Linked DNA regions of Homo sapiens. The gene in region 1 interacts genetically with each later gene. Each region holds a gene or a part of one and is shown on either strand. Other genes may lie near its edges. The genes, in order: TIMM9 and MAPKAP1.

Region 1 (3,820 bases):
AAAAAGGTTTGTATAAAATAAAGCTGTTTGAAACAGAAATTAAACAGCATGTAAAAGGAAAACATGAATCATGTACACTGTAGACTAACATAAATGCTATACATTTTATTTAGTTAAGAGTTTTCTGATAACCAAAACAAAAATGATAAACTGGATGTGCAAATTTTTATTAGCTTATCAATTATTAAAGTATCTCTGGAAAACATAAATTCTTTATGAAGCTTTGTTGAAACTAATTTTTATGAAGTTCGTTGAAACTAGTAGTAAATTCAAGTTTAGGACAAAGTGTATGCCACCATCACAAAAAAAAATTAACATTCTGCTTTTGATTAACACATACAATCAACAGTAATTCCATTCCACCAGTCTCAACCATACCTATACTTTCCTCCTTTTTTCTTATCCTATAAAATCACAATAACTAGGCTGGGCACGGTGGCTCACACTTGTAATCCCAGCACTTTGGGAGGCTGAGGCAGGTGGATCACCTGAGGTCAAGAGTTGGAGACAAGCCTGGACAGCATAGTGAAACCGCATCTCTACTGAAAATACAAAAATTAGCCGGGCATGGTGGCTTATGCCTGTAATCCCAGCTACTCAGGAGGCTGAGGCAGGAGAACTGCTTGACCCCTTGGGCGGAGGTTGCAGTGAGCCGAGATTGCAGCACTGTACTCCAGCCTGCACCGCATAGTGAGACGCCATCTCAAAAAAAAAAAAAAAGAAAAAAAAGAAAGAAAGAAATTCACAATAACTACTGACATTTAAAAAAATGTCATTTCCTTCGTATGCACAGAAAAGCCTCCCCACTCCCCAGCGAGTGTCAGTGGAAACCACACAGGGAGCCTGGCTTTCCACCCCAATTGGCAGTAATGAGGTACCCATCTCCATCTACTCTGGGGTGGTATCTAAGGAGGCCTACTTGACATTCAGGACTTGCATTACTGCCTCATGACAATTAGGCCATGTACCCTGCTGTAATGTCAGTGGAGGCCACATGGGGAGAGTAACAAAGCACTGTAGTCCTTCCCAGCCAGGGAGTTATCAGTGGAAGCCTGGTGAGGAGCCAGAATGCCTACTCCACCTAGCAGTAACAAGAAACTCCCTGCCCCTCCCTTCAAGTGTCAGAGTGAGGAAGATGAATTTCTACTTCCACCTGGCAGTAATGAAGTGGTACCTCCCACCACTTCCCCTCATGGAGCATTGTCAAAAGGAGCCAGATAAAATGATTAAATAACATCTAGAGCCTCATAACATGATATGCAAGATGTCCAGGCTACAATATATTAAAAAATCACTCATCACACCAAGAACTAGGAAGATCTCAAACTGAATTAAAAAAAGACAACAGATGCTCAACATTGATTAATATGTGTTAGGATTATCTGACAAAGATTTTTAAATAGCACCTTGTAAATACTTCAGTGAGCAATTATGAACACACTTGAAACAAATGAAAAAACAGAAGGTCTCAGCAAAGAAATAGAAGATATCAAGACCCAAATGGAAAGTTTAAGAAGTGAAAAATACAATAACCAAAATAAACTCAATGAATAAAATCAATAGGAGAATGGAGGGGACAGAGGAATCAGTGAATTGGAAGCCAGAAAATAGAATTCTTCAACCTGAATTACAGAGAAAAACAGAATGAAAAACATTAACAGAGTACAAAGGACTTGTAGAAGTATAAAAAAGTGAATATTTTGTCTCATTAGAGTCCAAGAAGGAGAGGAAGAAAAGGGTAGGGTAGTAAAAGTAGTGGAAGAAATAATGGCTGAAAACTCCCCAAGTTTGGCAAAAGACATAAACCTACAGATTCAAAAAGCTGAACAAACCCCAAACAGCATAAACCCGATGAAACCTACATCGACACATAATAGTCAAACATCTGAAAACTAAAGACAAGGCTGAGCGCAGTGCCTCACGTCTATAATCCTAGCACTTTGGGAGGCCAAAGCGGGTGGGTCGATTGAGGTCAGGAGTTCATGACCAGCCTGGTCAACATGGTGAAACCCCGTCCCTACTGAAAAAAAAAAAAAAAATACAAAAAGCAGCTGGCCGTGGTGGCACACACCTGTAATCCCAGCTACTCAGGTGGCTGAGGCACGAGAATTGCTTGAACCCAGGAGGCAGAGGTTGCAGTGAGCCAAGATCATGTCAGTGCATTCCAGCCTGGGTGACAGAGTGAGACTCTGTAGCAAATAAATAAATAAATAACAATAAATAAAATAAAAAATAAAGACAAAAAGCCATTGAAAGCAGCAAGTGAAAAACTATATCTTGCCTGTAGGGGTAAAACCATTAGGATGAAAGCAGATTTTTCTTTAGAAACTATGGAGGCCACAAGGAAGTGGCACAAAATGTTTCAAGTGCTAAAGGAAAACAACTGTCAATGCAGAAACCTGTATCTAGTGAAAACAACCTTGAGAAATAAAGGAGAAATCAAGACATTCTCAAATGTAGGAAAACTAAGAAAATGTGTTACCAGCATAGCTACCTAAAATAATCGCTCAAGTTTCTAAACGAAGAAAATGATAAAAGTAGTAGTCCTGGAACATCAAGGAGGAAAACACAGTAATAGGTACAATACACTTCTCTTGAGTTTCCTAAATTATGTTTGTCGGTTGAAGCAAAAATTATAAAACCATCTATTGTGGTTCTAAATGTATGTAGACAATTAAGGTTTCTATACTTCACTTGAACTGGTAATATGCTGACATCATTACATGGTGATAAACTAAATCAGTGCCATGAGAAAAAGTTTTAGTACTAAATGCATACATTAGAAAAGGAAAAAGGCCAGGTGTCGTGGCTCATGCCTGTAATCTCAGCACTTTGGGAGGCTGAGGTGGGAGAATTCCTTGGGCTCTGGAGTTCAAGACCAGCCTGGGTGATATGGTTTGGCTATGTCCCCACCCAAATCTCATCTTGAATTCCCAAGTGTTGTGGGAGGGACCTGGTGGGAGGTAATTGAATCATGGGGGCAAGTCTTTCCCATGCTGTTCTCATGATAGTGAATAAGTCTCCCAAGATCTGACGGTTTTATCAAGAGGAGATCCCCTACACAAGTTCTCTCTCTTTGCCTTCTGCCATCCATGTAAGATGTGACTTGCTCCTCCTTGCCTTCAGCCATGATTGTGAGGCCTCCCCAGCCATGTGGAACTGTAAGTCCATTAAACCTCTTTCTTTTGTAAATTGCCCAGTCTAGGGTATGTCTTTACCAGCAGTGTGAAAATGGACTAATACACTGGGCAACATAGTGATACCTTCTCTCTCCAAAAAAAGAAAAGAAAGAGAGAAAAGAAAAGAAAAGAGAAAAGAAAGAAAAGTAGCTGGGCATGGTGGCATGTCCTATACCCCCAGCTACTTGGAGGTTGAGGCAGGATTGCCTGAGCCAAGGAGTTTAAGGCTGCAGTGAGCTATGATCATGCCATTGCATTCCAGCTCAGATAAAACAGCAAGACCCTGTTAAAAAAAAAAAAAAAAAAAAGGAAGTGGAGGTAAGGAAGGAAGAAAGGGGAGGGAGAGAGGGAAAGGAGCGTGGGAGGGAGGGAAAGGAGCGTGGGAGGGAGGGAGGGACTTAGGGAAGGAGGGAAGGGAGGGAGGGAGGGAGGGAGGAAGAAAGGAAGGAAGGAAGGTAGGAAGGAAGGAAGGTCTTAAATCAGTAATCCAAGCTCCTCCTACCTCAAGCACCTAAAAAAGAAGAGCAAAATGAACCCAATGAAGGAAATAAAGAGCAGAGATCAATTTAAATGAAAAGAGAAAAAAGAAAGAGCTAGTTCTTTGAAAAGATTAATAAAACTGACAAACCTACTAGCAAGAG
Region 2 (3,820 bases), on another chromosome or scaffold:
AAGTGGTTTCTCCCATTTTTCTCACTTTCAATTACATAAAACTGTATTCTACTTTCAGTCCAAATTTTGTGTTGCCTATATTAAATCCATTTCCCCAATATATCTAGACTGCTGCCAACTAGAGTTAATAAATTTTGAATGACTGCTCAGGATTTATTCCCTTTATTTTTATATTCTGTTATTTCCTTATACAATAGAGTATGAATGAAAACAAGTATCTACAAGACCAGTATTTCTTCAATTTTCACCTTGTGAAAGCTGGGTATTAAAATAAAAATAAATTAAACTCTTGGGCTGGGAACTCCCTGACCATATTTCTCTCACTGTGCTGGGTGTCTCTACGCCCCCTTTCAATCTTGAGTACATATAGTCAATAGGCACTGCATGCACTGGGGGAGCACCTGGCCCATCAAGGGCCTTTCCCAGAGGAAGTAATGAATAAAGAACAGATGAAGAGCTGAGTAGTGGTTCCTGACCTGCCAGCAAGAGAGGAGGGGCAGCATTTTAGATTTGAGTCATCTCCACTGGAGTCTGCCAGTAATCAGTTGTGTGACTTTAAGCATATCAATTAGAAACAGAAAGCTTGGCATCCCGAAAAGAAAACCATTCCTTCAATTTTCTACCAATTTCTCTGCTGAAATGGTACTTATTTGTAACACAGTACCTTAAAATGAGTCCGCAGGGAACTGGAAAATGTTATTTTTTTGAAGTTTTACACATTCAGTATACTTTGCATCAGTAATAAAAGTATATTAGTAAAAGTATACTCAAGTATAGGATATTACGAATTGAATTTCAGCAAGACTTGAATTTTACTCCTCATTATTTATCCAAAAAGGAAAAAAGATCCGAGGATTTGTAAGTGACGTGACCAAACTCCAAAGGCTGTTAGCGGTATCCGCATATTCAGGATGCAAATCACTCTCTAGTCAACTGCACTTGCTACTAAACTGTGATTCACTGGCTGTTAGTGGTATCCGCATATTCAGGATGCAACACCCTCTCTAGTCAACTGCTCTTTCCACTAAACTGTGATTCACTGGGTGCCGATTTCTTCATCTCAAGAGGTGATGATTACCCCCTTTGTAATACTACCTATCTCATAGGACTATGAAGACTAAAGAAAATAAGGTATACAAGAGCATTTAACAAATTTACCATACCACTTCATACTATTGTGGAGAGGGCCAAGAGACAAGAAATCTGGTAGCATTTAAAGTGCTAAGAGCACAAAATAGAAGTGTTATAAGGTCATCTCACCAGCCAGATCTATACTTTAGCTTGATTATACAATAAAAGCATTGACCTTGCCACTCTCCAAAACTATCAGCGCAAGCTACAATGCCCCCTCACACTGGCAATTTACCATGAGATTTCTAATCAATAATCAAAACATTGTATTGTATACTTCCTGCTCTGAACAACAGGTACCAAAATTTCAGCAGCCAGGTAGGTTGGAGTTCACAATCAGGCAGCCTAGAATTACACTCAGCCCACAAATATGTTTTGATCAACATAATTTTTAATGGCAAATTTTTAAACTAAATACATTAAAATCCACGACATGCAGTGGCTCACACCTGTAATCCCAACAATTTGGGAGGCCATGGCAGGAGTATCATTTGAAGGCAGGAGTTCAAGACCAGCCTAGGCAACATAGATAGACACCATCTCTACAAAATTTTTTTAAAAATTAGGCCGGGCGCAGTGGCTCACGCCTGTAGTCCCAGCACTTTGGGAGGCCAAGGCAGGTGGATCACCTGAGGTCGGGAGTTCGAGACCAGCCTGACCAACATGCAGAAACCCCGCCTCTACTAAAAATACAAAATTAGCCAGGCGTGGTGGCGCATACCTGTAATCCCAGCTACTCAGGAGGCTGAGGCAGGAGAATTGCTTGAACCCAGGAGGTGGAGGTTGCAGTGAGTCAAGATCGCGCCATTGCACTCCAGCCTGGGCAACAAGAGCGAAACTCCTTCCCACAAAAAAAATAAAAGCAACAACTAGCTAGTACATGGCCGGATGCAATGGCTCACCCCTGTAATCCCAGCACTTTGAGAGCCTGAAGCAGGCGGATCACTTGAGGTCAAGAGTTCAAGACCAGCCTGGCCAACACGGCAAAACCCTGTCTCTACTAAAAATACAAAAATTAGCTGGGCGTGGTGATGGGCACCTGTAGTCCCAGCTACTCAGGAGGCTGAGGCAAGAGAATCGCTTGAACCCGGGAGGCGGACATTGCAGTGAGCCAAGGTCATGCCACTGCACTCCAGCCTGGGCAACAAGAGCGAGACTTTGTCTCAAAAAAAGAAAAAAAAAAAAAACTAGCTACACATAGTGGCATGCGCCTGTAGTCCTAGCTATTGGGGAGGCAGAGGTGGGAGGATCACTTGAGCCCAGAATTCAAGGCTGTAGTGAGCTATTACCACGAAACTGCACTCTAGCCTGATAGGACGATACCCTGTCTCTAAAAGTTAAATAAATAAATAAGAATAAATTAAAATCCAGATTTCCAGCATCTTTTCCAAAAAGTGTCAAAAGATCCAAGGACACTGGGCCCACTTCCTCACATGGCAACAAGCAAGTGGAGCTGAGCAGCAACTGCTCCCTTTAGTTTGGGCCCGTGCTCTCCAGTTCATCAAGGCCCAGCCTACTCATCCTAGTACATAACAGGCATCGGACTTGGAGACCACTGAGGAAGATGCTCAAACAGAACAATAATAATAATTTAATGAAGATTTGTTTACTCTTTTTTGGCCAGTTTTTTGTGGCTCTATCACACATTAGCTCTGTGACTCTTAAGTAACATATTTAACCACTAAGCCTCTTAAATTTAACACAAGCTGAAATATGCTGACTTCTGAGTCAAAAAACTTCACAAAAACTTCGAACTCACAGAAACAAGTCAGGGCACCTCCCATAGGGAAAAAACGTAATGTGGCCACGAATGGTGGCTCACGCCTGTAATCCCAGCACTTTGAGAGCCCGAGGCAGGCAGATCACTTGAGGTCAGGAGTTTGAGACCAGCCTGGCCAACACAGCAAAACCCCGTTTCTACTAAAAACACAAAAATTGGCCAGGCGTGGTGGCACCTGCCTATAGTCCCAGCTACTTGGGAGGCTGAGGCAAGAGAATCTCTTGAACCCAGGAGGCAGAGGTTGCAGTCAGCCAAGATCATGCCACTGCACTCCACCCTGGGTGATAGAGCAAGACTGTCTCAAAAAAAAAAAAAAAAACAAGTAACGTGACAGAAGTCCTTGTCATATAATAATTTGACATCTACAACTGCGTCCGTAACAGTAAGGCCTATACATCAGAATAACAGATTGCCAGCAAATTATCTTAGGCTGAATCATATAAATCCACTCAACTGCAAAAGTTTCTGAAGTCTTCAGGTATAAGTCAATAAGCAAAACAAGCTCCCCCACCAAAAAAGAAAAACATTTAAAGTAACAGATAAGGCTATGAGCTCCTTTAGTGCAAAGGCCACTTCCATTCCTCGTGATCCCTCCTGTCTCACAATGACTGGCACACTGAAGCTACAGCTCAAGGGCAAGTTTCTCTCTGAAGCCTTTCCAGAGGGTCCGCATCCACATCACAAAGAACAAGCAACATGGTGTAGTAATGAAGAGTGCCGATCTCAGTGTTCAGCAGATAATCCCCTCTATCTTACAGCTCTACCAGCAGCATAAACTCAAGGAAGTTATTCAAGGTCTCTGTGCCCCAGTTTCCTCATCTGTAAAATCAGGATGCTAATAACACCTTCTCACACGAGAAAAAAATGAGATAAAGCATTTAACATCACACCAGCAGAGTAAGTACTCAT

Evidence for each region.
Region 2: changes in TIMM9 (region 1) and MAPKAP1 together harm fitness more than expected from each alone (negative genetic interaction), as found in Homo sapiens cells (one large-scale study listed by BioGRID).

Annotation. Positions count from the first base shown.
Region 1 is NC_000014.9:58,414,032-58,417,851, forward strand, and holds part of TIMM9 (mitochondrial import inner membrane translocase subunit Tim9), read right to left. Parts: intron 3,050-3,820; exon of another isoform or gene 3,015-3,049; coding exon of another isoform or gene 3,012-3,014; intron 1-3,011. UniProt on the Homo sapiens protein: Mitochondrial intermembrane chaperone that participates in the import and insertion of multi-pass transmembrane proteins into the mitochondrial inner membrane.
Region 2 is NC_000009.12:125,700,557-125,704,376, forward strand, and holds part of MAPKAP1 (target of rapamycin complex 2 subunit MAPKAP1), read right to left. Parts: intron 1-3,820. UniProt on the Homo sapiens protein: Component of the mechanistic target of rapamycin complex 2 (mTORC2), which transduces signals from growth factors to pathways involved in proliferation, cytoskeletal organization, lipogenesis and anabolic output.